Regions from separate parts of the Homo sapiens genome. Here regions 2, 3 and 4 are each linked to region 1. The links come from fine-mapping of genetic effects on gene expression. A gene starts in region 1. Each other region holds a variant in brackets. All regions are shown on one strand. Distances are between the middles of the regions. Region 1 holds the start of PASK (PAS domain containing serine/threonine kinase). Region 2 overlaps SNED1 (sushi, nidogen and EGF like domains 1). Region 3 holds the start of SNED1-AS1 (SNED1 antisense RNA 1). Region 4 overlaps PASK (PAS domain containing serine/threonine kinase).

What was found. PIP is the estimated chance that this variant, and not a neighbour inherited with it, causes the effect.
Region 2: its variant is fine-mapped to the expression of PASK in whole blood (TOPMed, PIP above 0.99). The same link has a PIP of 0.9 or more in blood mononuclear cells.
Region 3: its variant is fine-mapped to the expression of PASK in whole blood (TOPMed, PIP above 0.99).
Region 4: its variant is fine-mapped to the expression of PASK in whole blood (TOPMed, PIP above 0.99).

What each region holds. Positions count from the first base shown.
Region 1 is chr2:241,144,903-241,153,002 of GRCh38, reverse strand. PASK (PAS domain containing serine/threonine kinase) reads left to right here and starts at 3,531. Exons shown (of 18, transcript NM_015148.4): 1 at 3,531-3,589. PPP1R7 (protein phosphatase 1 regulatory subunit 7) reads right to left here and starts at 2,536. Exons shown (of 10, transcript NM_002712.3): 1 at 2,456-2,536. The coding sequence starts at 2,507. RefSeq lists silencers at 2,115-2,454, 3,585-3,944, 4,005-4,064, 4,115-4,164 and enhancers at 2,745-2,904, 4,418-4,577.
Region 2 is chr2:241,090,722-241,098,821 of GRCh38, reverse strand. It overlaps SNED1 (sushi, nidogen and EGF like domains 1), which reads right to left. Exons shown (of 32, transcript NM_001080437.3): 32 at 3,254-7,184. It overlaps MTERF4 (mitochondrial transcription termination factor 4), which reads left to right. Exons shown (of 4, transcript NM_182501.4): 3 at 1,395-1,579; 4 at 2,384-3,251. The coding sequence ends at 2,824. Among named protein-coding and RNA genes, the nearest start is that of MTERF4, 7.5 kb to the left of the region's middle. The variant A/G (reference allele first, on the strand shown) is at 4,541.
Region 3 is chr2:241,061,224-241,069,323 of GRCh38, reverse strand. It overlaps SNED1 (sushi, nidogen and EGF like domains 1), which reads right to left. Exons shown (of 32, transcript NM_001080437.3): 17 at 6,420-6,533; 18 at 5,624-5,737; 19 at 5,199-5,312; 20 at 4,367-4,480; 21 at 3,729-4,025; 22 at 1,377-1,560; 23 at 301-413. It overlaps SNED1-AS1 (SNED1 antisense RNA 1), which reads left to right and starts at 5,206. Exons shown (of 3, transcript NR_187212.1): 1 at 5,206-5,244. It also overlaps a transcript of MTERF4 not described here. RefSeq lists a silencer at 5,098-5,257. The variant C/T (reference allele first, on the strand shown) is at 4,386.
Region 4 is chr2:241,116,221-241,124,320 of GRCh38, reverse strand. It overlaps PASK (PAS domain containing serine/threonine kinase), which reads left to right. Exons shown (of 18, transcript NM_015148.4): 11 at 188-372; 12 at 1,422-1,589. Among named protein-coding and RNA genes, the nearest start is that of MTERF4, 18 kb to the right of the region's middle. The variant C/T (reference allele first, on the strand shown) is at 3,153.

The sequences.
Region 1 (8,100 bases):
AACTCAAATCAGACTGTGGGCAGGGAGGATCACTAAGGAAAAGGAGAATACAGCCAATAGTGCTGACCGCCCACAGAAAGCTCATTGGTGTGAAATGAGCTTTCACACTGGACACTGGACAGAGTGTTAGCAACTTAAGGCTTTTAAAGGTTCATAAATATTTTTTGAATTAAAGAATAAGGCAATTCAATGTGTCAGGTAAAAATTCTTTGGTAAGGTTGTCAAATCATTTTTCTTTTTTATAACTTTACTCATGACCTCTTTTGGAAGTCTGTCTGGAAAACATGAGGCACTAACACATTACTTGGAATTATCAACCATACTGAAAATACTCTTTCCTGACTATGGTTTATCTACAAAGAGATGTGCTCTTTGAGGGAAAAAGTTCAACTTCATCTTTGTACTTCCCGCTTAGCCTAGCAAAGTAAAACCCAAGAAAGGATTGCTGTAGAAAACAAGTCCTTATAAAACCCACCTCCAAAACCTCCAAATCCATCTCTTCTTCCCTACCCCCGCAATGACGGTGGCTCACTTACTTATTAGCTGCAGCCTGGGCTCCTGCCCTGCCTCCTAACTCGTCTCTGTGACTTGTCTTGCCCTGCTTAACCTATTCTCCCCTGCCAGAGAGTCTGATCTAATTCTAAAATCCAAATCTGATCTTTTGAGTCCAAAAGTATTTCTGGAATGCTCTTCCTGAGTTTGCATCTTGCTGCTAGAGATGCAGCTTTGGCAAATCGTTTCCATTTGAAAGCCTCAATCTCCTAGTCTGTGGAAGGGAGCTAGTATAGCACCTATGCCTCAGCAAGTTGCTGTCACGGTTAAATTAGAAAAGGCACAAGAGCAGTTAGCACGTGCATGACATGCAGTAGATATATAACAAATTAGTCACCACCAGGCACAGGTCACTTGGTGGTCCAGGCTCAGGGAGAGAAAGTTCTACTGCATGACAATCTGGCACAAAAACCCCAGTAAGAGGAGGAGTGGTGTGAGGTTAGCAAAGGCTTAGCTAACGAAGGTTGGCCAAAGTGAAGCCTGAGGGCAGCAGAGAGGGTCTGGAACATGGGACAGTGGCTCTGCATGTAAGAAAATGACTTTGGTGTACTGGGGATGATGGGCTGGTGAACAGGGACAATCAATCTAGCCTAGAGATGATGAAGGTCTGAGTTAAGGTACTGGCAATGGGAATGGAGGACGTATCGGAGATTTGGAGATACTTTCAAAAGTAAAAGTCAGAGCTCCTTGACTAACAGGACATGGGTGGGAGTGGGACAGTGAGAAAAGCCGGGCTTTTATATCTGTCATTTACCAAGACATGGAAACAGCTGAAGAGGGAGTGGGAGGATATGAAGAGGCGCTTCTTAAAAAGACTCAAAGGGTATGAAGTCCAAGACCCTTAACACTACCGCCCCCATCCCCACCACATACGATTTGGTCAAACTCTCCTCCACACCTTTTGACAGCAGTTTTCTCCGTCTTGAGTGATTCTTGCTCTTTTCCCTCACCCTATCCCCAACCTCGTTGCCTTCGAGTTATTCTTCAGGCTCCAGCTCAGAGCTCGCCCTGCTTCTGCAGCTGTCACCACTCCCTAACATGTCAGGCCTTCCTGCTGCACCCGCCCTCCTTCCCCAGCTCCACATTCCTCTTCCCTACCCCTTTCACATAAGGCAGTGACTGCTCTTCTGGGAGGTCTGTACCCCTCACCAAACCATGGGACCCAAAAGTACTTAAGCTGATGACACAACTGATTCCCCAGTTGCTAAGTGGGTGTGTGCACGCATTTTTACACACATACTGTACGTGCACGTATATGACTGTACCTACAGATATGCAGAAAATTATAAACACATGTGTACGTATAACATATACATATATGCATGTGGTTTTTTTTTCCAACAAAGTGAATGAGGAGGAAGAAAGTTGAATTCAGACTTTTTGGAACTATGACAGCTTTGAAAACAGGTATCACCTTGTGTAACTCAATCTTCCGGTTCCTTGTTACCCCTTCCCAACAGTCCATTCGATTTCAAGAGAAGACCCTTCTCCACCCTCACCACGTGAACCAAGGAGCAGACTCTGGTAGATCCCAGCGCCTCAGTTTCCTCGTCAGCTGACCGAGGAGGCTCCCCCGCCCGTCAATCTCAGAGGCTCGGGGCGAGGCTCCAACTGGACTGAATGGAGCCACCGCGTCCCATTCAGCCCCACCCCCGGCCTGGCCTCGCGCCGCCGCTCTCCCCCTAGCTCTGGGTCCTTCCCGGCCGCTGCCGCCCCCGGGCCGGGGCTCCCCCGAGGTCCAGCGCCTCCCCCGCTCCCCCGGGTCCGGCTGTCAGCTGTCAGGGGGCCGCGCGGCGGCGGCCAGAGGCAGGACGTGGAGTTTCTCTCAGGCACGGAGCAGTTCCAGCCCGCAGCTCCCCCCGCCCGCTGGGCCCTTGGGCCGCCGCCCGCAGGGGCCGCTCACCCTCCATCATCTCCTGCGACTGTTGCTGCCCCGCGCCGCGTTCCGCCGCCATGTTGGCTGCTCTTCCCCTTTCCGGAATCTGTCGCCTCAGACCCCTCAGCCAATCAGGGCTCCCGCCTCAGAGCCGGCCCTGCCAATGGGATTCCGGCGCGGCGACTTCAGCCGCGCCGCGCCTGCGTGGGCCCAGCGCCTCATGGGAGTTGTAGTTCCGTCATGAGGCCGCGCGCCGCGCCTCCCCCAGAGCAGGTAATTTCAGGCGGCGGAGCCGGAACAGTCTGGAGGCGAGAAGCTGGGAAGGAAAGCAGAGGGAGTCGAAGCGGGACGCACAGAGCCGTAGCTGCAGGCAGACGGAGTGGACGTCTAGGCAGAGTGGAGAGACGCCCTGGGCTTGAGAGTTGACTTATGTCACTGTCTCGACCTCGGAGGCGTGGAGGGGCCGCGGGCCAGGCGGATCTTTCCGTGGCTGCAAGGTGCGGGCCAGTCCTACGTGCATCCCTGACCTCTGCGAGCCTCGCTGGCTGCGTCTGTACAATGGGCCGAACGGCAAGAGCAACAACATTCTCCCGGCGTCCCCGCGCGGATTTTACCCATGCGAAATGCCGCCTTCTCTTGACGCTCGGAGCAGGCGGGCAGGTGCGGGGCACTTGCGCTGGTGGGGCCGCTAGCCAGCTGGCTGGCTCCGGGGCGCCAGCTGGGCTCCCCTTGCAAGTCGTTCCCAGCCCAGTGCGGACGCTGCAGCCTTCGTCTACCCTGCGGAGCCACCCGGCCCATGAACGAGCCGCCCCGCGTCCTCCGCCTTCAGAAAGAGGCCTCCAAGAGGCGAGCTCTGCGCTACTCACCCATTTTGATCGCGAGTCGGGAGGAAACCGCATCTGCCCGGCCCGGGGGCGGAGGCGCCCATTATTCCTTTGGCTCCTCCGAAGCGCCGTAGGGGTGTTTGGTGCGTCCCTAGCAACCCTTAGCGCGGGCTTCTAGACTCTGGCTAGCTTAGTCCCGCCCATACGCGCAAGTGGCTGGTCCGTGGAGCTTGTCAATCGGTGCTAGTCGCTGTGCGATTGGTCGGTGGGATAAAAGCGCGGAAGGGCTCCTTTCCGTGGTGTGTAGCCGGCTTGGCGTGACCCTCGCCTGATCCAGGTGAGATACCTGCGCTCGGGAGAGCGGGCCGGGCTCCGCCATCTCCCCAGGGCGGCTGTGGGGCCTGCGCGGCTCCGCGCCCCTGGCCCAGGAGGATCCGCCGCCCGACTCTTAGACCAGCCCGACCCCGGGTCTCCCGCCCCTGCGCCCGTCGCCCTTCGCGCACCGCCGAGCCCGCGTCCTCTCCGTGCCCAAATCGCGGCGGGGTTGCGGCCGTTGGCCCTGGGCCCCGCGCCCCCAGCGTCTTCGGGGTGCCCTTCAGTGTAGCCTGCCCGGTGGGCGCCGAGGCCCCGCGCCTCGGGTCGCCTCGGGACCCTGCGCTCTCTTCACCGCAGCCGGCCCTGCGGGGCGAGCTCCAGGAGAACCAGCCCGGATCCCGCCAGCCTCCTGCACTGGGCGTGTGGGTCCCTGCGGGCTCAGCCGGCGCCGCGGGGTCGGGGGCGCGCGCCGCCGGCGCTCGTGGTTACAGCAAAGACCTGGACTTGAGCCTTAATTTTTTCACTAATTTTTCTTTCCCAGAGTACGGCAGGGGCCTGCGCTGCCGTCTTGAGGCCTTTCTCGTCCTTACCTTCCGCATCTCAGTACCATTCGATGTCCATTTTTCTCTTAGGGGTTCCCTCTCTTCATCTTTCTGCTGCTACCTTAATTTAAGACTTTATAATTTCTTGCCTGGATTACTGTAGCCTTTCTCCTGCTTTCCAGCCTTGCACCGACATGGTCCCTGGAGTAATCTTTGTAAAATGCATATCTGGCCATGTTACTCCTAAGCATTGAATCCTTAAAAGTTCATTTTGGGGATAAAATTAAGACTTTGGGCAGGCATAGGAGGCTCTGGGCTCATGCTTGGCCCTTCCAGGCCCACGTCCACCTACTCTTCTGGGTACTGAACTCCTCTCTGGGAGGCTTTGCCTCTGAAAGACTTCTTCACTCTGCTTGGTAGGGCCCGGCTCTGCAGGTGCCTCCTCCAGGACTGACATCCTTGCTGTGTTCTACTGCACTGTTCACCTTGTTGGCCTCATCCTGAAACTGGTTCTCCTTTTTGTTGTACAGCTGTGCTGACAGCAATGGGAGCTGTTTGCTTCTTAGCTTATGTTCTGGTGGGAGGGGGACAGTTGCTTCTAGAAGTTCGCCGAGATGCTCCCTGCAAAGTTGTCCTTGCTTCTGTTTGGTCTGAGGTGGGGTCACTTGTGTCTTCTGGAATCAAAACTAGCAATGGGAATATGGTTACTCGGTGGCACCATTAGGTGCTGTCTGCTGGGTTTGGGTTCCCGTGTCTGCAGCTCACAGTGGATACAAAGGACAATTTTAAAAATTTGGGCCTGGACGTGCAGGTATTTCTGGTTAACGTCTGAGTCAAAATTTAGTGATCTAAGGTCATGTGAAGCCAGACTCTGTTCTTTCTTGAGGCCAGGCTGTGGCTGTGGAGTGCACGGGAGGCTCCAGGGGCCTATGCTGTTCAGTGACAAACTGGCCCACGTGGACTTCAGATGCCCAGGAGGCACAGCGGGAAAAAGGATGCATCTTTCCTGCTGTCCTCCCCGCTCCCGCAGAGGGTCCCATCAGTTTCCCTCCTGGATAGGCTTGTAACTCTCAGTAACCTAATTAAACTTCCACAACTTTAGTTGGTATTTATTTACTTTCTCCCATGAAGGACAAAAAATTGCATGCCCTTACCCTCCCTTTGCTTTTTTTCCCCCTTTCCATTTCATGTTAGTTACTTTTACAAAGAAACTTCTGTAACATTTACAATATATTCTGAATAGTTATATTACTTTTTTATTATTTTATTTTTTGAGACAGGGTCTTGCTCTGTGGCCCAGGCTGGAGTGCAGTGGTGCTGTGTCCTCTCACTGCAGCCTCCGCCTCCTGGGCTGAAGCGATTCTCCCACCTCAACCTCCCAAGCAGCTGGGACTACCAGCATGTGCCACCACACCTTGCTAATTTTTAATTTTTTTTTTGTAGAGATGGGGTCTCCCTATGTTGCCCAGGCTGATCTCGAACTCCTGGGCTCAAGTAATCTGCCTGGCCTCCCAAAGTACTGGGTATATGACTTTTTAAAATAGTTTTGTAACATTGACATTGCAGTCTGAAGAGTTATATTTTTTAGGAATTAAAGTTTTCTAACAATGTATTCTGAAGAGTTATATTACTTTTTTAAGAAAGTAAGGTTTTACAACATTTACAATGTATTCTGAAGCTATAATTAAGTGTCCTGAGCTTTGTCTATAGGTTGGTTCTAAAAGTAGAAAAAACTGCCTCACACTATAATCATGTCATTGTTATTTATTATGGCAATAATTAGTGCATTTGGATGCTTAGAGAAGGAGATGTAAACCTGTAACTAAAGGTCCCATTCATTGTTGCTGCTTGTAGGAAAGCTGCACACTCGAACCCCAAACCCTATATGTAATAGCTTCCTACACATCTGCAGGTTTGCAGAGCCTTTGCCTTCCAGGGTCCTAGGCTGGGTTTGTGTGTGAATGTCTCTGAATTTTTTGGCCGTATCAGTTTATTCATACAAAAGAATAAAGGCAGTGTTAGTCATGAATTGTACCAGCAGAGTGGATGCATTTGAACCCATCACCCTAGGAAATCAGGGGACCTGTGCCCTTGTGCCTCTTCCCCACTCTTGCACCTGCCTGACCCAGAGGGAACCACCTGCCTGAAATTTAGGTTTACCAGTCTCTTATTTAAGAAGTAGTTTAATTACATAGGTGTGTTTCCCTGAACTACTTATTTAGATTATTTCATGACAAAGGAATCCTCCTGCTGATTGTCTTCCGTAACTTGATTTTTTCCACTCGTATATGGCTAAGATTCACCCTTGTGTGTAGTTTATTTGTTTTCACTGCTGTAATTAGTGGTATGAATATACCAGAATTTAAAATCTATCTTCTTGTTAAAGAGTGTTTGGGTTTCATTTCCTTTTTTCCTCCCTCTCTCCCGCACTCCCTCCCTTTCTTCCCTCCCTTTTTTCTGCCTGTCTCTTTGCCATTGAGAACCATATTGTCCCGAACATTCTGGTGTCTTCTTATCTGTTTGCAAAAATTTCTCTGAAATATAAATCTAAGTGAAAAGTGCTGTATCCATATAGACAAATGTTTCACTTGAATTGTTTTCTAAAGAGATTATATTAATGTATTAAGAGTTCCTGTTGATCCAAATCCTTTTTGACATTGGGTATTACTAGATTCTTCATTTCTGCTGACTTAGTAGGTATAACATCATCATGATTAGGATTTCCTCTCCTGTAAAACGCTTGTTCCTATTTCTTGACATTTTTTATTGGGCCATGTGTCTTTTAAAAATGTTTAAATTTTAAATAGTTGATCTTTTAAAGCTATTCTGGATATTAATTTTCTGTTGGTTATGTATGTGGCAAATATCTTCTCCCAAATTGTGGCTTGTTCTTTCGTTTTCTTTATGGTATTCTTTGTGAAGCTGTGTTCTCATTTTTTTTTTTCTTTTTTTTGGGGGGGACGGAGTCTCGCTGTGTCGCCAGGCTGGAGTGCAGTGGCGTGATCTCAGCTCATTGCAACCTCCACCTGCCAGGTTGTGTCGCCAGGCTGGAGGGCAGTGGTGTCATCTCGGCTCATTACAACCTCCACCTCCCAGGTTCAAGCGATTCTCCTGCCTCTGCCTCCAGAGTAGCTGGGAATACAGGTGTGTGCCACCATGCTCAGCTAATTTTTTTTTTTTTAGTAGAGATGGGGTTTCACCACATTGGTCAGGATGGTCTTGATCTCTTGACCTCGTGATCTGCTTGCCTCGGCCTCCCAAAGTGCTGGGATTACAGGTGTGATGTGTTCTCAATTTTAACGTTAAACTTATTAATCTTATTTTATAGCTAGAGTTTTTTGTGCCTTGTTTAAGAAAACTTTCCCTACCCCAAAGTCTTACAGATAGCCTCTTTTCTCCTAAAAACTTAGTGATTTTATTTTATATTTTATTTGGTTTGACAGGTCTCGCTTTGTTGCCTAGGCTGGCCTCCATCTCCCTGGGCTCAAGCAATTATCCTGCCTTAGCTTCTAGAGTGGCTCGGACTATAGGTGCAGGCCACGAGACCTGCCTGGCTAAAAAGTTTAGTGTTTTGACTTCCACAGATCAGATCTTTTATGCCCTGGGCACCATAGTGAGACCTCATCTCCTAGTTAAAAAAAAAGATGGCCATGTGAAGATACATACAAACAGGGAGAAGTCGGCCGGGCGCGGTGGCTCACGCCTGTAATCCCAGCAGTTTGGGAGGCCGCAGCAGGTGGATCACGAGGTCAGGAGATCGAGACCATCTTGGCTAACACGGTGAAACCCTGACTCTACTAAAAATACCAAAAATTAGCCAGGCGTGGTGGCGGCTGCCTGTAGTCCCAGCTACTCGGGAGGCTGAGGCAGGAGAATGGCGTGAACCCGGGAGGCGGAGGTTGCAGTGAGCCGAAGTCGCGCCACTGCACTCCACCCTGGGCGACACAGCGAGACTCTGTCTCAAAAAAAAGAAACAAACAAACAGGGAGAA
Region 2 (8,100 bases), 54 kb after region 1:
CAGTGGTGGGCATATGGTATGTGTTCAGTGGGTTGATGCTGATAATGTGATGTTGATAAATATGTGTACATATAGCATTTGATGTTTAAATCAACATGAAATGGTCTTAGTGCTCTGTCTCTGTGATGTGATGTCAAACCAACATCTCTTGTAAAGACTTAGATTCTAGTCGAGTGTTTAGATTTACTCTGGAACATGAGAGATCTGGCCAGGTTCCTGGGATACTCGTGGAGTGGCCTTCCCTTCTATTTATCCCCCACTCCTGCCCCCAACAATATTCACATCTCAAGGATGCTCAAAGTTCCTTGAATCTCTTTAAGGGCCTTCTGGAGGAGTTGGGGGTCTCCAAGGACCCTTACCCACTTTGACCAGAGGAGTTCCACTATTATTTCTTTGCATTATTGACTCTTCCTGGTAAGATGTTTTTTGAGGCAGTGGTAGAAGGTTTAGGATCCACCATTTCACAGCATCTCTACAGGCCTCCTTCTCTAGAAGATAAGAAAAAGGTAGCCTTGTATATTTTTCTTAACAGATTCTTACAGTGTAATCTAAAAGTCTAAATATATTATGTGTGGTGGTGATTAATTAGCAAACTCAGCACAGCCTTAAGAAATGAAGATAAACCTAAACTGAAATTCCTCACATATTAAGATAATCACTAACTCAAATGTTAGGAAAATTTTAATTAACAGTTTAAATAGTTGACTTTAAGTTTCCCATTACTGAATTTTGCTCAGCTATCCCTAGGAAGGCCTGGAATAGTCCCAGTTTACACCAGTTAGTGCGGTTTTAATAGGGCCTCTTTCACTCAAGGTGCCCTGGCTTGGAGAAGATATATGGTGACCCTGGTAACCAGGACGTCAGCATTGGTGTTGTGTGTCCTCATGATTACTATTATTGTTATTACTGTTATGATGACGATGGTGATGGAACTCCTTTTCATTGAGTTCAGCTTGAGAATGTTAGTTGTGAATGCTTCAATGACTATTTTATTATAGAAGGAAACATCAACCCAAACCAGCAATATGGAGGAAACTACTCTCCCATATTACTCTCTGATCTTTCCAGTAAATGCCTGGGAAATTCTTTTCCAAGTGAGGAGGGCAAGAGGAGACCCAAAATACAAAGTTGGCACCTTTCAGGTGGGAGGCCAGAATAAAGCAGGAATATAGGGAGGGAAGGATGGTGAGTCTGAGGAGTGTCAGGAAGTCAGTGGGGAGATGTATCATTTCCATGGTGCTTCTGGGAAGATAGATCTGAAATTGCCACTTGCTCTGTGGAAGGAGAGGATCCTTGTTTGTTTTTAAATGTGGACTTAAATTGGGTGCAGCTAGCTCCTTGAGTTTCTGGAGTATCCTGAAATTATATGCTTGCCTTTTTTGAATGTTCTGCAGGGAAATTAAAGAGGGTGCTTTACTGTTGCCCTGAAATTTTCACCATGCGCCAGCAGGACATTAACGACACTGTCAGGCTTCTCAAGGAGAAGTGCCTTTTCACGGTACAGCAAGTCACCAAGATTTTGCACAGTTGCCCCTCTGTTCTTCGAGAGGACCTGGGTCAACTGGAATACAAGTTTCAGGTGAGAATGACTGATAGCGTGATTAGCGTAGTTTCAGGTGAGAATGACTGGTAATGGGATTAGCGTAGTTTCAGGTGAGAATGACTGGTACCGTGATTAGTGTAGTAACAGCAAGTTTCTCAGGTTTTTCAAATGTAGTGAAGGTCAGTTATATGGATAAGAAGCCTCGGACACCTCATATTTGAGTGGAGGAAGTGAAAGACTAGATTCTCTGCATACATCAGCCAAAGAGAAATCTTTAATTTCTTTACTACAGATCAAACCTATTCTTCAACTTTTCTGCCATTAATAATGAATGATCCAGTCCTATTCTTAGAGTCTAAGTGGGGACTCTGAAATAGCTAATTTTAAAATAGCTGAAACCTTCCTGTCCTTAGAATCTATTTTGCATGTTGATTTTGAAAATGTAATTTTAACAGTTGTCCGATTTTTTGGTAATAATTATGACAACTTAGGTCGAATTTCTAGATGTTTTCTGAATGTTTTGCCTATTCTTTCCATATTCATCCTTTTCCTTCCCCATTTAAAGAAAAATACCACCTCTTCCTTCTGCCCCTTCTCCCTCCTGCCCCTTTTCCCTCCCACCCCTTTATTTCCTGCTCCATGTTTCTCAGGATGAATTTGAAAGTGTTTTGAAACTGCTGGCTGTCACACAAATGTCAGTATCCTAGACTGGGTATTCGCTGTTGTCAATTAGGCAATTCTTTTTGAATCCTTTTGTACAACTTAAGTTTTTATGGTTTATAGAATGATAGGTTTCAATACTCTGTATCTGGGACTCCTAAGTGTGTTTGTGTCTTCCAGTATGCATACTTCAGGATGGGAATTAAGCATCCAGACATTGTAAAGAGTGAGTACTTGCAGTATTCACTAACCAAGATTAAGCAGAGACACATTTACCTGGAGCGCCTGGGACGGTACCAAACCCCTGATAAGAAGGGGCAGACACAGATCCCTAACCCATTGCTCAAGGACATTCTCAGAGTTTCAGAAGCTGAGTTTTTGGCCAGGACAGCCTGTACTTCTGTTGAGGAGTTTCAAGTTTTTAAGAAGCTCCTGGCTCGGGAGGAGGAGGAGTCTGAGAGCAGCACATCTGATGACAAAAGGGCAAGTCTGGATGAGGATGAGGATGACGATGATGAGGAGGACAATGATGAGGATGACAATGATGAGGATGACGATGATGAGGACGACGACGAGGCGGAGGACAATGATGAGGATGAGGACGACGACGAGGAGGAATAGCTGTGATGGAAGGACTAGAGCGAAAGGGCCCAGAGATATCAAGGAAGCTTTTCATTCTCTTAAAGCTTTTGGGTCCTTTACTTGAATCTTCTCAAGTTATTTTTTATTCTAAAACTGGTCTCTTGATGAAAAAAATTATAAGTCACCTGAGAGGCAGACAGATCAAACCAAACAGGAAACAGGAAATGCATGTTTGATCTGTTGTCACGTGTCTGTGGGGAGGGCCCTGTCCCATCCTGAATAAGATACTTATGTTGAGCTATTCACATCAAGGGGACTCAATATATCAACAATTGGTTTTATTTTTTTCTCTTTTGAATATGTTGGTGATAATTCCGTGACAGTTGGAAGATGGGGTTCATTCTTCCGGTTCAGGAATCACTATGTATTTCCTTCTTGTGATAAAAATAAAATTACGAGAAGGCAATGTGAGGTTTTAGTACATCATAGCACTTTATTTTATGAAAACATGTAGCAGATTTTCCACAAAAATGCTTATTTTTAATCCAAAAGTATATTGCTTCATAATGGTATTCAGTGCACAGCAGAGTAAAAGAAGTTAATTCATGATGTACTGGTTAATTTTGCATGGCTTCTTAAGGCCAGCAAAATGCTGGCAGTTTTCTTTATCTTTGTGAAGAACAGGCCCTTCCTGTTTGGGGAAGTTGGCTTTTATGTCAGCTCTTGGCCAGTGGTCACTTCCAAGCCTGGTGTCTCCGGCCCTGTAGTCTGTAGTGCCAGACTGTGCTGGCCTGGAGAGTGCTGGGGCAGGTGGAGGCCAGGGAATGGTCCCATACAGTTATCTCCCCTGCCCTGGTTACAGACAGCTTCGAGAACCAGAGGAGAAGAGCATAGGGTCATGGAGCAGGTGGGCTGAAGCCAGGGCCACAGGGAGCAATCCGTGACCCCCCAAGGTGGGTGTGGGGGGGGGGGGGGGCGTGTCACCTTAGGGAACTCAATGAGTCCGAAGAACAATTTGAAATGTTGGGAAAAGAGAAGAGGAATTTGATGTCAGCCGGGGTGATCCCTGAGATAGAGGCCTGTCTCTGATGGCATGAGCTCTAAGAGGGTCCTGGAGGATTGGTACATCCTAGAACATTCCAGTTAGCCCTCTTTTAGGGGAAACTGGCATAGGATTGATGCAGAAGGCATTTTTGATGATGGGACCAAAATTCAAGTCTCCTTGGTAGCATTCTAGGATCAACTAGATCCTAGGATCTGGTAGATTGTAGGATTCTAGTGGGTAGAGGCCAGGGGTGCTGTGAAACATCCTGCAGTGCACAGGATGGTCCCACAAGAGAGGATGATCCGGCCCAGAATGTCAGTGCTGAGCCTGAGAAACTCATCTAAGGCCTGGTCCACAACAGTAATGTGACTGTTCACTCGTGACAACTTCAGATGGTAAATGGACTTAGGATCGTATTATTTTATTTAAAAGAAAAATAAGGAGCTGGTTTTTCAGCCGGGTTCCTTTCCCCTATGCACTGGAATACCCCTGGTAGGTGTGAGCTGCATGCAATTGTGGGGATTCAGCACTGAAATCTAGGTGCTTTTGTTTTCTCCAGCAGCCTCGTCTTACAGCGTGACTGCAAAGAAAAAGACTTTTGTTTTGCAAAAGAAAAGCAGCTCGGTGACTCCGTCCACATCGCCACAGTTGAGTCAGATGGCAGTGGCAGTCCTTTGCCAGTGGAAGGAGTTCCTGCTAAGGGGAGGTGC[A/G]GGAGGTGAGCTGATACCTGAGTGGGGCCCTTGCCTGTTGGGTTCTCTACTGGAGGACAGTGGGCACAGCAAAGATTCCCTTACTTGTACCTGGCAGCCCACACGCAATGGGGAAAAGGGAGAGTTTGTCTTTATTGCCTTGCTTGGCCATAGGCAAAACTGTTTGGAAATGAGACATTTCACTGTGCCAGTGTTTTCATTTTCTCTTCCATTGTGGCATCCCGGTCACTGCCACCCTCCCTAGAACCTAGGCTGTTGTTGTACCCAGTCGGAGGACTAAGTAGAATCCTCAGTCTGCACTTGGTTAGATGATCAGTCCATCCCGGTTTCATTAGCAGATGGGTAATTCAGCAACTCAGGATTGCTTCTTTCATTTTGATACAGAAATCTTTATGCTCCTGACAGTTTTCTGATTCTATTATTACTAATTTCCTTGGGTGGACTTTGAGTATTTTCAAGGAAGCCATTTGAGTTTTTAAAAGAAGCCACATGGGAAAAGCTGTGGTGGCCTCTTTGGAATGTTTCAAGAACGAACTGTAATTCCTGAGCACCAGGAAGTCTTTTTACTTGATATTTAATGTGGAAAACATCCCAATGGGCAAGTCCTGTGACAGCACTTGGGACTCAGGAGCCAGTTCTTGTTGACACAAGGCTTCTAAGCTAACACTGGAGCATATTAGCATTTGCTGTGTGGCACCAAGCTTGGGACTCAGGAGCCAGTTCTTGTTGACACAAGGCTTCTAAGCTAACACTGGAGCATATTAGCATTTGCTGTGTGGCACCAAGCTTGGGACTCAGGAGCCAGTTCTTGTTGACACAAGGCTTCTAAGCTAACACTGGAGCATATTAGCATTTGCTGTGTGGCTGAGGGGCTTGAGGTCCTAGTAGGGAGTAGAAAGTTTCCTAGTAGGATTCACCTACTTTTCCAGTGATATCACTCGATCTTAGCATCTGCTAGTAATGCTGTAGCTTACATGGACAAACAGTGACAGGTCCCAGGGCGGCAGGAAGTCCGCAGTACGCGTTTGTGAACGTGGTTTCTCTCAGTTCACCCAGTGACCCTTCGCTGAGCTCGAGACCCTTCATTGAGCTCCACCTTCTGCTCTCAAGTGGGTCTGGAGCCTGGGGAACAGCTCGGGAGTACAGGTGAAACTTCGCGAATTGCCTGTTCCTTCTTTCTGAAAATGACAAATTGCAGAATACACAGACACATGCACATGAAATTTTAATAAAGATAAAAAGCCTAAAATATACTCTAACTCTTCAAAAAACATTTTTATGAAAGAGGAAAGGAAGGAGGCCCTCTTTGTGGCTGGAATGCTGGCTCTGAGCAGAGTCAGGGTGACGCGGCAGGGCGCTGGCTTTCCAGCTGGGTCAGCGGTCGTGAGGCTCAACACGAGAGGAGGTGGGGTGGCTGCTTTGGTTGTAACATTAGCAGGGGGAAGACAGCTGCTTAGAAGCATGGTGGGAAGCAGATGTGGTGAAGTGCCGTACTGTTCTGCTTACAAAGATGGGGATGTCTAAGATCGTGTTTACTACCTGATAGCCTAAAACAGTATCACTTGAGTCATGGACTAAAAGGAACCTTAAACATTGTCCAGCCCAGCCCAGGTGTCCATCTCTGTTGCACTGAGACTTGTAAGGCGTCCTTGCTGCTTCGTGGCAGTGTGCCTTAGCTTTCCAAGCAGGGGTCTGAATAGCTTTTTCCATGAAAATTCAGGGGTCTTTCTTTGATACCCTTGTGACTTGTCATTCAGGGGATGGCTTCCACTGTTTAAGGCTGAAGCCTAGGTGATCTCATAGAACAGGGTTCACCAAATAAGGCCCATGGGCCAATTTGGCCACCACCTGTTATTGTAAATAAGTTTTTATTGGAACATAGCCGCAGCCATTCAATGACATGCCTGTGGCTGTGTCTGCGCTACTGTAGCCACAGGGACCTCTGGTCTGCAAAGCTGAAAACGTTTACCGTCTGACCCTTGATAGAGAAAGGCTGCCAGTCGCGCCGTTGTCTAAAAAAGTCTGAACTCCACCTTAGTGTTAACTAGTCCATAGGATGGCTCGTCGACCTGCACGAGCGTCATAAACACGCTGGAGGACCAGAGCAGGGGCGGCTGTGTCTGCAACCCGGCTTTCCTTCTGACATCACCTGGTCTCTGCCCTTCAGCCCCTGCCCCCGTCTCTGTTTTGGAAGTGGTCCATCACAGTTCCTTCTCAATTTGTTGGGCCTCGAAGGGAGAATTCTTTCTCTGGCTTTGGAGTCTAAGAACAGGTTTCTGCATACTGCAGAAGCGTGGCTGACTGACAGCCTCACTGATTCCGGGGAATGGCGAGCTGTCATCTCATCCGCAGAGACACAGACTACACCTTCAGGAACTGCAGCTTGGGTGAGGGCACAGGCTGCTTAAACGCATCGCAGGACTCACAGGTGGTTGGTCCCAGAGGGGTCTCTCAGGGTGGGCTGGTGTGTGCACAGGCCTGGCCATCTGTCCTCTAGAGGCCTGAGGAGAGAGGTCACAGAGGGGACTGACTCCAGCTAGGACCTTTTCTCAGGGTGTCCTTTTTCATCCAGTTTTTAGACCTCATCTTCCTGGGTGTTAGAAACTCGTGAGGTTGGTGGAGTGTAACAAGAACGTCTTAAATCCTTTGAAGAAAAAACAAAGTGAAGCATGAGGAGAATGACAGGCATTCCCACTCCTCTTTAAATGGGCTGCTTCCTGCTTCTCTTAGTGGCCCTCAGGGCCTCTGTCACCCAGAGGACCCCACGTTCTTAGAGCACCAGGATTCTACCATATGGCAGTGCACACGGGGAGGACCCCGCGTTCTTAGAGCACCAGGATTCTACCATATGGCAGTGCACACGGGGAGGGGCAGCCTCCACCGACTACATCCCCATCTTTAGGAACATGTGGGCTCAGCATTGCAACTTTTAAATGTGAAATCACAGCCTGTTCCTCTTCCCTGCCCTCCTCCTTCCGGTAACGACTCTGGGTCTTTTCTCCAAGGGCACAGCTGTGTCAGGTTGCTCTGGGTTGAAATGAATTCTCGTGTTGTTCTTGGATGGGTGTCTGGGTGCGTGTGTTTCTGTTTCCTGCTTTTTTGTGTGTTGTCTCCATTATTTCAAGAATAGGTATTCTATAAGTCAGTATTTGATAATTAGTTGGGGGTTTCTGATTTGTTTTTATGGGAGTGGATGTGCTAGGCAAGCATTTAAAAAGATACATTAATATTTCAGGTGACTTACCACCGTATAAATATCTCAAACCCAAATTATGTTTGTGGATTCTTAATCCTAGTACAGTTAGGCACTGCACGATGAAGGACCGCGCGCATGACAGTGGTCCCATGAGATTACAGTGGAGCTGAGGTCATAGCCATCGTACAGAATTCTTTTTTCTTTTTTTTTTTTTTTTGAGACAGAGGGTCTTGCTCAGTTGCCTAAGCTGTAGTATAGTGGCGCAATCTCAGCCCACTGCAACCTCTGCCTTCCAAGTTCAAGTGATTTTCCTGACTCAGCCTCTTCAGTAGCTGAGATTACAGGTGCCCACCACCATGTCTGA
Region 3 (8,100 bases), 84 kb after region 1:
TATCCCTGGCCCAGTGAGGTCCTCTGGCCCTCTGGTCGGTGTCCAGTAGGAACTCCATGCTGAGGAGCTACCAGGAGCCTTTAGAGATGGAGACTGCCCTGGACAGCTGTCCCAGCACAAGGGCCCAGCCCAGCCCAGCGGCTCCTGCCCAGTGGCCCCAGCGGAAGAGACATCTGGGAGGCCAGGGGCTGGGTTTCTGGTGTTGTGGACGCTTTGGAGAGGACTAGGGGAGGCTGGAAGGAAGCCAGAGCTTCTAGAAGACGGCCTTTCGTGTGCCGGGGGCCGCGCTGCTCTACTCACGGGTCCACACGTGCGTCGGCGCGGTGGCCAGGCTCTCTGTGGGGTGCTCCTCTCCCCTGAGCCCACTGAGGGTGGTCAGCTGGATGGTGTACCTCTTCCCAGGCAGCAGGGCCCTGTGGGCAGGAGGTGACAAAGAGAGAACAGGGATGTCTGGGACCTGTGTGTGACTCTGCTGCCAGACCGCAGCTCCCCCAGGCAGGAGGTGACTGCGGGGAGGTCATCCTGCTGCTGGTGGCCCAGGCAACCTCCACGAGGGGCAGACTCATGGCCCTCAGAGCCGTGTGCTCCTAGGGCGGGAAGCCAACCCATAGTCCGGGCAGCGGAGGAGGATCGGGTGCGCTTGGGGCTGCTACAGTATGGTCAGAGGGCCGGTGTTCAGCTGGGAGAGGCCAGAGAAGGGGGAAGTGGTCACTGTGCAGGGATGGGGGACGGGCCCTCAGCACAGGTGAGTTGATGTAAATTCTCAGGAAACCACAGGACAACGTGAGGCCAATGCCACCCCAGCCCCAGGAAGCTGCTGGCTGGAGTCTTCCTTCCCACTCGCTCTCCGATCTTTTCCTGCACCCCTGCCTGCGCTGAGCACGATTCGGAAGCTTTCTCTTTGGTTGGCGACCAAATCACAGGGGTCCACTGTGGGACTCCTGGGAGAGCTCGGGGCTGCTACCATCTACCCTCGCTGGCCGCTGCTCTCTGAGGGGTCCACTGTGGGACTCCTGGGAGAGCTCGGGGCTGCTACCATCTACCCTCGCTGGCCGCTGCTCTCTGAGGGGCCAAGTCACTCTCATGATCTGTGTGGAAAGTGTGCCCCCGGATTTTCTGAGCTTTTCCTGCTCTTTTTGGACACTTTAAAACACTACCAAGGTGTATCCTCTCTTGGCAGCCCTGATGAGGTGAGGCGGGAGTGAAGCCTCCAGGGTCTGAGGCTGGCTCACCTGAGACCTTTGTCTCCGCTCAGGTGAGGAGCGGCAGGTGGTACAGTCCACACACGGAGAATGTGCCCGAGACCTGGGCCCCGTGTCCCCGAGCCCCCACCCCTGCCTTCACCCCAGCCCCATGCTCTGGGTGTCCCTTCTTACCTAAAGGTGAACCTGTCCACACTCCTGTCCACATCGGTGGCCTGGTCCCTGAGGGCCTCAGGGTGGCGGATGGACACACGGACCCCACTGACGGTGGCATGGCGGATCCTGTGCAGGGCCCACTGCACTGAGATGGTGCTAGCCGTCACATTGGTGACCTCGAAGCCTTCCACAGGGCGGGGTCCTAGGGGGAATGGACTGTTCAGCAGGTGCCGGCCCCTCCTTGCTCCTGGGGGAGTGCAGGGGCTCAAGATGAAACCAGGCTTGGGAGGGTGCTGGGGGCCACAGAGAGGCACTGGAGAGGGTGTCCCATCAACTGCTCAGGGAACTCGGGCTGAGTGGGATGCCCAGGCTCTGGCCTCCAGGGCTGACAGCTGCAGAACCCGCTGTGAGCATGACGGCTGCAGAGCCCGCTGTGGGCCAGCCCGTCTTACCAGAGGCAGGGGTCTTAGTCTCCATTTAGATGTGGCAGTGACATGGCAGGGGATGGGCCGGAGTCCCTCTGGACATGAGTAACCCGGACCTCCCCTTTTCTGTGCCAGTTGACTATTTTGGTCTAAGAGCACACATCCGGGCCTGGTCTGGGCAACGCTGTCTTAGGAGGACAGACATACAGAACTCCCAGCAACTGCAGGGAAGGGGCCACTTGTGAGCTCCGCTTCCCGCCCAGCCAGTCTCCTCCGAAGCTCCAGTGCCACTGCTGATGCACCAGGCAGAGCCCAGAGGGCAGCGCTCAGCTCCCGGCAACTCAGCACCCCGGTCTGTGGACAGCGGTCCCTTCCACCCACCATGGCTGGCTGGAGCCCCAACTCTGCAGCGGGCAGGGCGGGCTCTGTCTTCACTCCAGATACCTTCCGAGGGCAGATCTCACATGGGGCGGCCTTGCAGGTGCTTCTTCCTAAAACAGCCCAGGCGAGCCACCCCTACTCAGCCCCTGGCAGCTCCTGCTGACACCTGCTCAGTGCCACCCGCACATGCGCCCAGGCTCTCCACTGGCCGAGGTGTGCTCTGTGTCCTTGCTGTGTTGGGAACTCCAGCCCCTTGGTGGTCAACTCCTGCAGGACAGGCCCTTGTGGGCCTCTGGGTGGGCTCAAGCTGCCTTGAATGCCTTCTCCTGTCCCTCAATGCCCTTGGCATTGGCATCAAGCTAGGGCCCAGGTGTGGCCAGGAGGCTTTCCTCCTGTGAGAACCGCCGAGCTCCTCCCCACCTACCCGCCATGCTACCCATAGGTTTCACCAAACTCACGTGGCCGCCCCGCAGGGCCCTGCTGGATGCTTAGGCCTCCCTGAAGCCCTGGCCACCCACCCACCCATCCATCCATCACGCCACTTCGCAGCAGTCTGTGCTCTCAGCACCTTTTCCTCTTTCCTCGAGCCTCTAGCACCCCTTCCCCATTCTTGCTCCTGTGTCTGGAGGCCACAGGCATGTTGGGTGAGAGTCCCATGGCCCCATGGCCCTGCACCCCACTTGGTTCCTGCCCAGCCTGTTCCGAGATCCCCTGTGCTCTAGCTGATGCGGCCGGGCTCCGTGGAAGGCCAGCCCTCTGCTTTCTTCCGGCCCTGCCCCTGTCCGTCCACTGCCATGTTCTAGGGCTCCTTTCTCCTTCCCAGAATCCCTCCCAGCAGCACACAAGCCCGCTAAGCCCTGACGCCTTCCCTAGAGCGCTCAGCATCTTCTGCTCCCCGACACGGCAACAACCCCACAGGCTGTGCACAACCCGGGCCTCCCCTGCAATCTTGGTGGCTCAGGCTCTGAGGAGGCTCCTCCTAGGACCCCCTCTTCAGGGGTCACATCTGGTCACAGCTTTCAGTGCCAGCTCCAGGTGGAGGCTCTGGGTCTGTCATTCCATCTAGGGCCTGCCCCACGGCTCTTCCCGATTGAGCCACCGATGCCTCCCCTTAGCACACCTCAGCGCCTACATATCCCTGTGAGCAGGTGCCTCTTTCAAACTCTCCCCAGGCCTTCAGAGCACCCCAGAGTCCCAGCCCCCCCAAGCCCACCCCCGCGGCCCCTGTCTCCCACACTGGCTCCTTCTAGGGACCCTTTTGGGAAGCCCCCATTCCTCCCCAGTCCCACTTCCTAGCTCCATGCCTGGGGGTTGTGCTGCTCCCACTCTTGGCTCGATTCTATGCGCCCCAATCCCATGCCTGTATCTTGTGGACCCAAGGCCACTCCCACACAGCTCTGTCTCCAGCAGGGCGGTGCCTCCAACCCCCAGCTCAGCTGTCTGTCTTGCTGCTGCAAGAACTAGGAGGGTGGACGGCATGACAGCCGCCCTGCAGGTGCCGGGGCCAGCGCTGCCCTCGAGGGGCAGGGGCTGGGCAGGGACGGCCAGGCTCGGGGACACTCACGCGTGCGGGCCAGCAGCACGGCAGGCCTGCTGATGTCATTCTTGTTGTTACTGTTTCGCTTCACTGAGAAGACGGAGATGTTGTAGGCCCTGCCGGCCGCCAGGGCCTGGAGCTGGTGCGAGGAGCGGGTCCTGTCCACAAAGTCTGTGCGGCGGTAGGAGCCGTCGGAGGAGACGTAGGTGACCGCGTAGCCATCAAGCATCTGCCTGGCGGCTGGACCATTGGGCGGGTTCCAGGAGATAGAGACCCCACTCTCCTCCACTCTCTCCATCTTGAGGGCCGTCGGTGGGAAGAGCTCTTCAGGGTTTGGGTCAAAACAAGGGGAGGGGACTGGTCAGCCGTTAGCTATGCATGCCTGGCTCCCGTCGGCGGCTCAGCCGGGTCTGGCTCTTGGGCCTGACACAGCCATCGCTGGCAGAGTCCTTCTTTGTCCCTGGCCACGTACCTCCAGGAGGGTCACACTTTTGAATGTGTGACCGTGTTTCAAGCCCACCGGGGGATTTTATCCCCTCCCTGTTCCTCAGGGAAGGGGCCTGGGCAAGCAGCGGCCAGACGCTCTGCCCTTGGAGACCGTTGGGCCCTCTAGGGAGAGGGGACCCCCTCGTGGCTCCCTCACTGGAGGCGCCCTCGCCACCCACCTTTGGCGCAGTCCTCGCC[C/T]GTGTAGCCCACTTTGCAGGTGCAGCTGTGGGAGCCGTTGCTGGCCAGGCAATAGCCACGGCCCCCACAGGGGCTGGAGAAGCAGGGGTCACTCACTGAGGGGAGAAAAAGTGGCAGTGTATGTTGGGGCGTGGCCAGGGGTCCCTGCTCCAGCCCCGCCCTTGCTCCTGGGGCACTGGGTCCCTCCTGCGTGGGTGTGGAGGGGCGGGGGGCACAGGACAGCTACTGCCTCCCTTCGGTTCTGCCACCTCCACTGCCCTGCGGGGCCCAACCCAGCAGCTCCTCCACCCTCCACAGCGGAGTGCCACCAGCCGGACTGGCTGAGGGGAGGAGACACTGGATCAGGACAGGACAGGCCACCACCCCAGTGACAGTCCTGCTTGAGGAGGGGAGGTCAGTGGTCAGGGAAGCCTCATCAGGAGGTATCCCACTGGGGGCTGATTAGGGAGAATGTTCCAGATGGAAGGACAGCCAGGGGCCAGACCTGGGTGTGCAAGAAACTTGGCCTGTCCAAGGGCAGCAGGGCCTATGTGTGGACGTGAGGCCCCACCCCTGGGTGTGTCCTCGGGTGAAGAGGGGTGTCTGGGGGGTGAGCGCAGGAGATGGGGAGGTTTAGAAGGCACCATTGTGGGACCAAGGGAGACAGGCGGAGGGCCACTGGCCTGAGAAGGGGACTTCCAAGGCGGCGGGCAGAGGGCGGGGAGCAGGCGGGCAGAGGGCGGGGAGCAGGCGGGCAGAGGGCGGGCAGCAGGCGGGCAGAGGGCGGGGAGCAGGCGGGCAGAGGGCGGGGAGCAGGCAGGCCTGCCGCCCTACCTGTCTCGCAGTGGTAGCCGAAGAAGCTCTCTGGGCAGACGCACAGGTAGGCCCCGCCGCCGCTCTCACACCGGCCTCCATGCTGGCAGGGGCTGGAGTCGCAGGCGTCCACCTCTGGAGAACACCCAGAGAGTGGGCCCAAGCTGCAAGGGGGGAGTCTGGGGGAGGGAGGAGAGGACAGCGGGAAGAAGGGAAAGGAGGAGTCTAGGGGCGGAGGCCAGGAGAGAGGGGCAGTGGGCAGGTCCCGCCCCTCAGCCCTCCCCAGCACCCTCACCTCCACCCCTCCCTCCCAAGGTGGCCGCAGCCCTGGGGGTCCCTCTCCCCAGGTGGCCTGCCCAGCAGGGAATGTGGGGATGCCCCACCTCCTCTCTGATCTTCCAGAGGCCCAGGCTCTGCATGTGGGGCCCACTGGAGGGAGCCCCTACCTGTCTCACAGTGGACTCCAACGAAGCCTGCAGGGCACCGGCAGACATAGGCCCCTGGGAGGTTCCTGCAGGACCCTCCATTTCTGCACGGGTGAGCTCGGCACTCATCCCTCTCTGCACAGAGAAGGGGTGTCAAGGGTGTTGCTGGCTCAAGTCTGAGGCGCCCACATGCCCCCAGGATTCCGTGCATTTCCTGGGGCTTCAGTTACCCCTTTCCCAGCTGGGAGCAACTACTCAGGACATGTGCTTTTTCTTCCATCAGCCCCAAACCCACCCCTCCTCGGGAGGCGTGCCACCTCCACTGCCTGCTGGCAAAGCCCCACCTCCAGGCCATGCCTTCCTCCAGGCCACTCCGCAATGGGAGGCTCCCCAGGGCCACGACTGGGCACGGCTCCCTGGGCCTTGCCCTCCCTGGAGCCTGCGTTTCTCAGGCTTAGAGCCCTAGCGAGGTACAAGAGTGTGCAGGGCTCATGGGGCAGGCCTCCCCTCCCTCCACTGGCTGGAAGCACCGACCAGGTGTCAGAGACTGTGACCTGCCCTCTCCGACGCCCACCTTCTCTGCGCCCTGAAGCCAGGCCAGCATTTCTCAGCTGGGCTCTCAGTCTCCCCTGGGGAGGTGCAGGAAGGGATATTTGTAAAATCTTTGTCTTGGATGTCAGAGCTGGCAGGGGCCCGAGAAAGCATGCAGTGGCCACCCTGGCCATCCAGACAGAGACCTGTCCGGGGGACCCAGTGCCTCAGGCACATGGCCAGTGTGCTGCAGCTGTCACCCCAGCGGGGCCAGGGCCCCTCTTACCCAGCTCACAGTGGGCGCCCTCATAGCCTGTGCTGCAGAGGCACAGGTACCCAGCAACGCGGTCCTGACAAGAGCCCCCATGCAGGCACGGCTGAGACCGGCACTCATCGATTTCTGAGAGGAGAGAGCCCAAGAATAAAGCAATGTGGCCACGATTAAGCCAAATTAAGATGCACATAAACTAGTCCTGAGGGGCCAGACAGAATTCGATGATACATCATCAGTGGTTGGAAAGGCCAGAGACCAGGGCTGGATATCCTTGGAGTCGGGGCAGGGCAGTGGGCCTGGGGCTCAGTGCCTGGCTGTGTCTGTGAAGCAGCAGGGCGGGCTTGAAACCACCCCAGGGCTCCCAGAAGACGCTGTGGGACTTAATTCCAGTGGTTCAGGCCGACAGGACAAAGGCCTCAGGGGTTTGACAGAAAATGTCTCATGTCCCATCTTGCCATTTCAATGTATAATAGTCACCTGTGAAACCAGTCCATCTGGGACAAATCTTGGTTTTAAATGATTCACCACAGCTTTCTTTTCAAGCGGGAGTTGTGCTCCTGAATTTAAATATTTATTTTTTTAAAGTTTAATTTCATGCTTAAAAAGTAAATAAATGGTAATGACTTAGTGACATCTGGGACTAGCAGCCACCCCGGCAGCCAGAATGCTGAATGGGCTCATCCGACCGTGTACCCTTCTCTTCCCTTGCGATAAGAATCTCTGGGTTTATAATTTCCTTGTCTTTAAAAACTAGGTTTTCTGGCAGTAAAATATGTAATTAAAATTAGCTTAAAAATTTTATAAATTGCCTAAACAATAGTGAATGTTTTTGTTGTTTATGAACTTTATTCATAGTACATCATGATATATATTGTCTTCTCTCAGCATTATATGAAGAAGAGAACTCCACACTGTAGGTCACTGTGGTTCATAGATTTTCACTGCTGAATAACATTACACAGTGTGGTTATATCATACTTCACCCATTCTCACTGGCTGGGTCTTTGGGTTGGTTCTAGACTTTTTCCTTTTTTTGTTTTCTTTTTTTCTTTTTTTTTTTTTGGGGGGATGGAGTTTCGCTCGTTGCCCAGGCTGGAGTGCAGTGGCATGATCTTGGCTCACCACAACCTCCGCCTCCCGAGTAGCTGGGACTAAAGGCGCCCACCACCATGCCCGACTAATTTTTGTATTTTTAGTAGAGATGGGGTTTCACTATGTTGGCCAGGCTGGTCTCGAACTCCTGACTTCGTGATCCGCCTGCCTCAGCCTCCCAAAGTGCTGGGATTACAGGCATGAGTCTACGCCCAGCCTAGACTTTTTGCTTTTACAAAAAATGTTGCTGTGTATATTCTTTCCCATCTCCTGGTGCAGACGTGAAGTTTTTCTTAGGTTTATACCCAGAAGTGCAATTGCTGGAACACAGTTGACGTAAATGAGCAACAGTGGGCAGATTGCTCAACAGGCAGAGTGCCACATTGTTTTCAAAGTGCTTCTAGCAATTTATACTCTTGCCAGCAATGCATAAGAAATCTTGTTGATCCACATTCTCACCGGTATAGGCTTTTCAGACTTCTGAAAATTTACCAGCTGAATGTACCTCATTGCACTTTTGATTTGCATTTCCCTGATTACTAATGAAATAGAATATTTCTTTTTATGTTTGTTGGCCTTTTGTATCTCTTCTTCCATGAAA
Region 4 (8,100 bases), 29 kb after region 1:
CCAGGCCTTGGTGCTGCCTGCCTCTGCCTGGGCTGCTCTCTGGTCTGTGTTCTGGGGATTGAACTTTCTAACTTAAAGCTGCTGGGGATTGGACTGTTGCATTCTGGGGACTGGACTTTTCTAACCTAAAGCTGCTGTCTAGCCAGGTCAGCACAGGCCTGTGCGTTCTTACCTTCTCACCCTTCAGGTATACAGTTTGAGGTGAGGCGGGTGGAGCTCCAGGGCCCCACACCTCTGTTCTGCTGCTGGCTGGTGAAAGACCTCCTCCACAGCCAACGCGACTCAGCCGCCAGGACCCGCCTGTTCCTTGCCAGCCTGCCCGGCTCCACCCACTCTACCGCTGCTGAGCTCACCGGACCCAGCCTGGTGGAAGTGGGTATTTGCAATCAATGCCTGCCCTGGACTTGCCTTGTACTGTGTGGCAAATATCCTAGTTGGCATCTCTCTCTGTTTCCTTGGGGACGGGAATACAGTCTGTTTGTAGCTTTTTTTTTTTTTTTCTGGGACGGAGTCTTGCTCTTGTTCCCCAGGCTGGAGTGCAATGGTGCTTTCTCAGCTCACTGCAACCTCTGCTTCCCGGGTTCAAGTGATTCGCCCGCCTCAGCCTCCCGAGTAGTGGGGATTACAGGCACGCGCCACCACGCCTGGCTAATTTTGTATTTTTAGTAGAGACTGGGTTTCTCCATGTTGGCAAGGCTGGTATTGAACCTCCTGACCTCAGGCGATCCACCTGCCTCAGCCTCCCAAAGTGCTGGGATTATAGGCGTGAGCCATTGCGCCTGGCCCTCTTTGTAACTTTTCACACTGTCTTTTAATATCCAGTGTGACTATGAAGCCACTTTAGGTCGGGCATGGTGGCTCAAGCCTGTAATCCCAGCACTTTGGGAGGCCAAGGCGGGTGGATCACGAGGTCAGGAGATCAAGACCATCCTGGCTAACACAGTGAAACCCCATCTCTACTAAAAAAAATACAAAAATTTAGCCGGGCATAGTGGTGGGCGCCTGTAGTCCCAGCTACTCGGGAGGCTGAGGCAGGAGAATGGCGTGAACCTGGGAGGCGGAGCTTGCAGTGAGCCGAGATTGCGCCACTGCACTCCAGCCTGGGCGACAGAGCCAGACTCCGTCTAAAAAAAAAAAAAAAAAAAAGAAGCCACTTTAAATCTGCCTAGGCCCATGTATATGGTGGGGTGTAAACACGTTTCGACATGTGTGCCAGTTGGGATCAGTGTGCTGAGGCTGCTTGGGGTGCCCTGTGGAGATAGGCTTTCAGACCTGTCTGAGAGCATGGGAGGAGAGGGGACTGGAGTGCAGGGCACACCTGCCTCGGGCGGCTGCTGAAGACGCAGGGGGACCACTGTGGGTGCTGCACCTCTGCCCGGTGCAGTTGCATGTGACCCCACAGACCTTCTTCTGCATTGCAGGTGCTCAGAGCCAGACCCTGGTTTGAGGAGCCCCCCAAGGCTGTGGAACTGGAGGGGTTGGCGGCCTGTGAGGGCGAGTACTCCCAAAAGTACAGTACCATGAGCCCGCTGGGCAGTGGGGCCTTCGGCTTCGTGTGGACTGCTGTGGACAAGGAAAAAAACAAGGAGGTAACCTGGCTGTGGGGGGGGAGTGGCGCCGGGCACCACTTCACATGGCTCTCGACTTTTGGTCCCAGTTCTCAAACCTGGGGTTTTTGGAGGAGTCCTCTAGGTATGGCACCAAGCACACAACCTGGCATGTGGGCGGTTTCCGGATTCAAAGAGGCTCTCCCAGCAGCACACACGTTGACATCCAGGGTTGCTGATCCCGTCCAATTGTAGATTCAGACCTCGAACAGGCCAGGCTCAGGGCTTCGCCTCCTGCCATTGTGTTGAGATCCCACATCTGGACCTGTGTTCCCTCCTTTCTGAGCCTGGGGCTTGCACCATTCTCCTACTCCCCACTGAGATGCTCATATCTCACGGGCACTGCACATGCATGCTGAAAACATGCTTAATCTTTTCAAATAACCTGCTTTGGGTTTCATTAATTTTTCTTATTTATAATCTATTTTCAATCTTGTGACTTTTCTCTTATTATAAAAAATTTTTTTCATTATTTTTTCTTACTTTGGATTTAATTTTATTTTCTTCTTCTATTTTCCTAAGGTGGTATCTTAGATCATTTATTTGAGCTATGCTTTTTTCTAATATAATCATTTAATGTTTTAATTTTTCTCCAACCCCAGCTTTATCTGTGTATCACATATTTTCATATGTTGTGCTTTCACATTCATTCATTTACAAATACGTTGTTACTTTGTGTTATTTAGAAGTGTGTTGTTTAATTGCCAATTATTTGGTGATTGTTCAGATATCTTTTTGTTTTTAATTTCTTTATAGAGAACATACTTTGTATAATGTCAGTTTCTTTAAATTTGTTGATGCTTGTATTATGTTTTGAAGTCTCTACCTATACTTGTGGATTTGCTTGTTTCCCTTTGTAATCCTCCCAGATTTTACTTCATATATTTGGAAGCTCTGTTGTTATAGGAATACCCATTTAGTATCATAGCATCTTCTTGATGAACTAATTCCTAATTTGATATGCCTTGTTCTGAAGTCTACTTTGATATTAGTATGACTACTCCAGCTTTCATTTGATTTGTGTTCACATAGTAAACTTTTCTCATTCTTTTACTTTTAGTCATTTATGTCTATATTTAAAATGGTCTTCTGTAGGCAGCATACACTTGGATCTTGCTTTTGAAATTCAGTCTGAAAGTCTCTAATTGAGGTGTTTATACCGTTGATGTTTAATGAAATTACTGATATGGCTGGATTTAAATCTATAATCTAAATCTAGATGTTTTCTATTGTTTCTGGATATTTCTGTGCTTTGTTATTTTCCCCTCTATTTTTCCTACTTTCTGTTGACTATATTTTATTATGTCATGTTTTTGTTTCTTGTTAGTTTTTAATATTTCATCATGATTTTTGGCATCGGTATTGAGATATAGTTCACATACCATATAATTCACCCATTTAGAGTGAACAGTTCAGTAGATTTTAGTATATACAGAATTGTGCAACCATCACCACAAACGAAGAACATTTCATGACCTCAGAAAGAAACCTCATACCCATCAGTAGTCAGTCGCATAACCCCCGTCCTGCTCGAATTTCCTCCAT[C/T]CCATCCTGGGCAACCACAAATCTACTTTCTGTCTCAATAGATTTGCCTATTCTGGACACTTCATATAAATGGAATCATGCACAGCATGCTCTTTTGTCACTGGATTCTTTCATCTAACATAATGTTTTCAAGGTTCATCCATATTGCAGCATGTATAAGTACTTCATTCTTTTTTATGACCGAGTAATATTCCATTATATGAACAGACACCATATTTTGTTTATCCGTTTATCAGCTGATGGACATTTGTGTTGTTTCCATTTTTTGGCCATTAGGAATAATGCTTCTATGAACAATTGTATATAAGATTTGTGTGAACATATGTTTTCAGTTCTAGGCATATACCTAGTAGTGCACTTCATGGGTCATGTCGTAACTCTGTGTCTAATGTTTTGAGGAACTGCTGAACAGTTTTCTAAAAAGGTTATACTGTTTTTACATTCCCATCAGCAGTGTACAAGGGTTCCTGGTCTACATATCCTTGTCAACACTTATTATTGTCTTTTCATTTCTAGCCATTCTAGGGGGTGTGAAGGGGTAGCTCACTGTGGTTATGATTTGCATTTCCCTGATGACTAATGATGTCAAGTGTCTTTTCATGATCTTATTGGCTGTTTGTAAATCTTCTTTGGAGAAATGTCTGTTCTGATCCTTTGCCCATTTTTTTTTTCTTTTGAGACAGAGTCTTGCTTTGTCGCCCAGGCTGGAGTGCAGTGGCACAATCTTGGCTCACTGCAACCTCCACCTCCCAGGTTCAAGCGATTCTCCTGCCTTAGCCTCCTGAGTAGCTGGGATCACAGGTGCACACCACCAGGCCCAGCTGATTTTTGTATTTTTAGTAGAGATGGGGTTGCACCATGTTGGCCAGGCTGGTCTCGAACTCCTGACCTCAGGTTATCTACCCGCCTTAGCCTCCCAAAGTGCTAGGATTACAGGTGTGAGCCACTGTGCCTGGCCCTGCCCCTTTGCCTACTTTTAAATTGGGTTGTCTTTTTATTATTAAATTGTATGAGTTCTGTATTTTAGATACAATTTCTTGATCAGATATATGATTTGCAAATATTTTCTCCATTAAATGTGTTGTCTTTTCACTTTCTTGATGTTTCATTTGAAGCACATTTTATTTTATTTTATTAATTTTATTATTTATTTTCTCACATTGATTGTACTTTATGGATGGTTTATAGGAGGTAAGGACTTTCTGCTTAAAATATTTAAAATTTACATGTGTACACAAACATACACATGTTCCCCCACCCGTGGGGAAGGACAAGATGACTCTGAATAGAGGATGGAGGAGGAGGAGAGGGTGTAGACAGAGGGCCCTTGACTCCTACAGGGGCAGCAGGATAAGGAACAGAGTGGGGCAGAAGGTGGGTTATTAAGAAGCATCTTGCAGGCCGGGCGCGGTGGCTCATGCCTGTAATCCCAGCACTTTGGGAGGCCAAGGCAGGTGGATCACGAGGTCAGGAGATCGAGACCATCCTGGCTAACACGGTGAAACCCTGTCTCTACTAAAAATACAAAAAAATTAGCCGGGCGTGGTGGCGGGCACCTGTAGTTCCAGCTACTCAGGAGGCTGAGGCAGGAGAATGGCATGAACCCGGGAGGCGGAGCTTGCAGTGAGCCGAGATTGCGCCACTGCACTCCAGCCTGGGCGACAGAGCAAGACTCTTGTCTCCAAAAAAAAAAAAAAAAAGAAGCATCTTGCTTACTGACATGAAGCCACATGCCCAGCGAGAGCATGGATGAGGCCTCATTGGTGTAGAGGAGGCCCTTGGAGGGTGGGCACATGATGCCCAACTAGCCAGCCAAGGCCAACGTCCCAGGGGTAGGGCGGAAGTGGGGTGGCGTGCACAGGGCACGCAGCCCAGGCCTCTGCTGTCCCCACCTCCCTCCCCACCCTCCGAAAGAAAAGACAGTTTGGGCCTCAGCCATGGACGGACGCCGTTACTGGCAGCGTCTCCTTAAACTACAGAGATACAATGTGTATCAACAGGGTGATCGCTTCTGACCCACTCAGGCAGACACCTAGAGGTGCTGCATGGGCCAGAACCAGTCCTATGGTATCTTTGGTTTGTGGGCTTCCCTCCCGACTTGAATCCTCCCTCTGTCCAGCCTCTGGGGTGGGCCTCAGGGCTGGGAACGGGCTGCTCGATGGCGCAAGGCCCAGCCTGACAGCCCTTGGAGGCTGGGGGTGCTGCCCTTGCCAGCCACGGGCAGCTTACTCACTGGGGTGCTGGGACTTGTATGAGAAGATCTCGGCAGCCAGCTGCTGCGGGTCCAGGAGCTGCGGGAAGTGCCCCATCATGGCCTCCACCGGGTGCGGGGTGTGTACACCACACAGCTTGGTGTACACGCTGGCCTGTTCCTTGGCCAGGCTGTCTGCCCTGCGCCGTGGGCCCCTGCCAGCCCCTGGGCTTTGCACTGGGGGCTCCTGAAGACTGGGAAGCAGAAACATTTTAAATGGATGACGTTTAGTTGGTCTCTTTTACCGTTTGTCACTTGTGTTTTGGTGTTATATCTAGGAAGACTCTGCCAAGCCCAAGGTCATAAAGATTTACTCCCATGTTTTCTCTAAGAGTCTTATGGTTTTAGATTTTACATGTAAGTCTTTGATCTATTTTTGAAGTTAATTTTTGTGTGTGGTGTGAGACTGGGGTTGGACTTCACCCTTTCGTATGTGGATATCTAGTTGTACTAGCACTGCTTGTTGAAGACTGTCCTCTCCCCATTGAGTGGTTTTTGGCACCCTTGTCAAAAATCAGTTGACCATAGATGCATGGATTTGTTTCTGGACTCTGAATTCTATTCCATTGATCTATAGTCTGTCTTTCTATCTTAAGTGTGTCCTTAAGCCAGTACCACACTGTCTTGATTACTGTAGCTCTGTAGTAAGTTATGAAACTGGAAAATGCTAGTCCTTCAACTTTGTGTTTTTTTTTTTTCCAAGCTTGTTTTGGCTATTTTGAGATTGTTTTGGCCATTTTTCACTTTCTTAAGGATTTTAGGATGAGCTTGTCAGTTTTGCAAAAAAGCCAGCTGAGATTCTCATAGGAATCACATTGAATCTGTAGCTCACTTTGGAGAGTATTGTCATCTTAACAATATTTAGTCTCCTGATCTGTGAACGTGGAAAGTTTTCTATTCATTTAGATCTTTAATTTCTTTCGGTAGTGTTTTGTAATTTCAGTGTACAAGTCTTGTTGTTCTTTTGTTAAGTCTCCATTATTTTTATGTCCAGTTTCTTCTTTTTTCCAGGTTTATTTTTCATTTGCTAGAATATATTCGTTGCCAGTTTTTCCAGGAAGGATTCATGGGTACTATACATTCAGTCCTTGTATGTATTAAAGTGTGTTTATTTTTCTCTCATATTTTAGTGATGATATGCCTTTCTCCTCTCAGAACTTTTTAGACCTGTATCTGTTGTAATCTAGCATTATTTTGAAGTGAATTTTGCTGACAGCAAAACGTGATTTATTTTTCTTTCTAGATGTAAAATCTTTGTCTTTCAAAGTTTTCACCAGGATGTCTTTAGGGGTTTATGTTTGTGTGTGTTTTCTTTATTCTTGCTTGATACTTGGTAAGACTTTGATCTGAATATTTAAAGCTTCCGTTCTTTGGTTCCGTTAATTCTTTCCTTCTCCCTCCTCCTGACACTCATTTTAGGTGTGCATGGGCCCCCCTGGAGGAGCCTGCCCTCTTGTCTCCTTGGCCCTGCAGCTGGACAGGCCGCAGGCCTCTTCACCTAGAGTGTCAGGGCTCCCGCCCTCCCGGAGGCTTCTGGAGCTCTGCCACATCTCAGCAGGCCCTTCTTTTGCTCCTCAGGACCACAGCCTGCTTCCCCTCGTCTTCTTGCTTTCCCTCAGTCTCACTTCTGGCCTTTTGGGCCATAGTGACCCTCCCGTCAAAGGGTCTTCAGAATTTGTCTCCTTTCACCTCTCACAGGCTGGCACCCAAGTTGCCCCCTTCTCTCCTGATGACGGTGAGAGGCCTGGATGTTGCCCAGGCTCCGATGATTCTTCCTGCTCCCGCCCTGGCCCCGATGCCCTCCCGATGCCCACTTACGTTGCCTGCCCAGCCCCCCGCCTCCCTCACACCTCCTCACAGCTCAGGTGCGCTCTGCCACAGTCCTGTGCTCCCGCTGCCCTCTGCCTGGAGGGCCTTCCCCGAGGCGCTCAGAAGCTGCCTTCCCGGGACTCACTCCCTATCCCATGCACCTCGCAGGGGCTGCACCCCCGCGGCACTTCCTGCCCCATCTTTTTTTCCTTCTTGGCACTCATCGTTCCTTGGTGCGTGATCTCACTCAGCATCTCTTCCTGACACCTGAACAGGCCCATCCTGTGGTTGGCACCCGCTGGGTTGCCCATCGCTCCTTCAGCTGCGTGCCGACACCCACGTAGCAGCAGGCGTTGTGTTGGGCGACCAGATTTTCAGCGACTTGCAGTGTTCTTTCTTTTGTGAATGGTATCTTTTTCTGTTACACTTTGACTATCATTGACTGTGGTAGCACTGTTTTTCTTATATTTACCTTATGTCTGTCAGTCTTGCTAAAGTCTGATTAATCTCAGAGTCAATGTTGAAAACATGTCTAAGAGTGATAGCTTTTCTTTGTATTTTCTAGTTTTCTGGCTTCTTCGTTTATTCTCTTGGCCAGGGCTTTCCAGTCCTTGGTTGAGAAGTCGGGGTGACGTGGATGTTCTCCGGGGCACATGCCCTGAGGCCTCTGGGGCCCTCTCTCCAGCCCAGGTTATGGCTCCCTCAGCTCCACCTGGATTCTCCATCTCACCCATCTGTCCACCTTACAGAATGGGCAGTAATGACGCTGCATTTCTGGTCAGCTGCTGACCCCCTTCTGTGCTTCCTTGTGCTGCAGGCGTTTATCACTTTGTTTCTTCTTTCATGTCCGTGGGACTTAGGGGAGGTAAATGCAGGGGATGTGTCTGC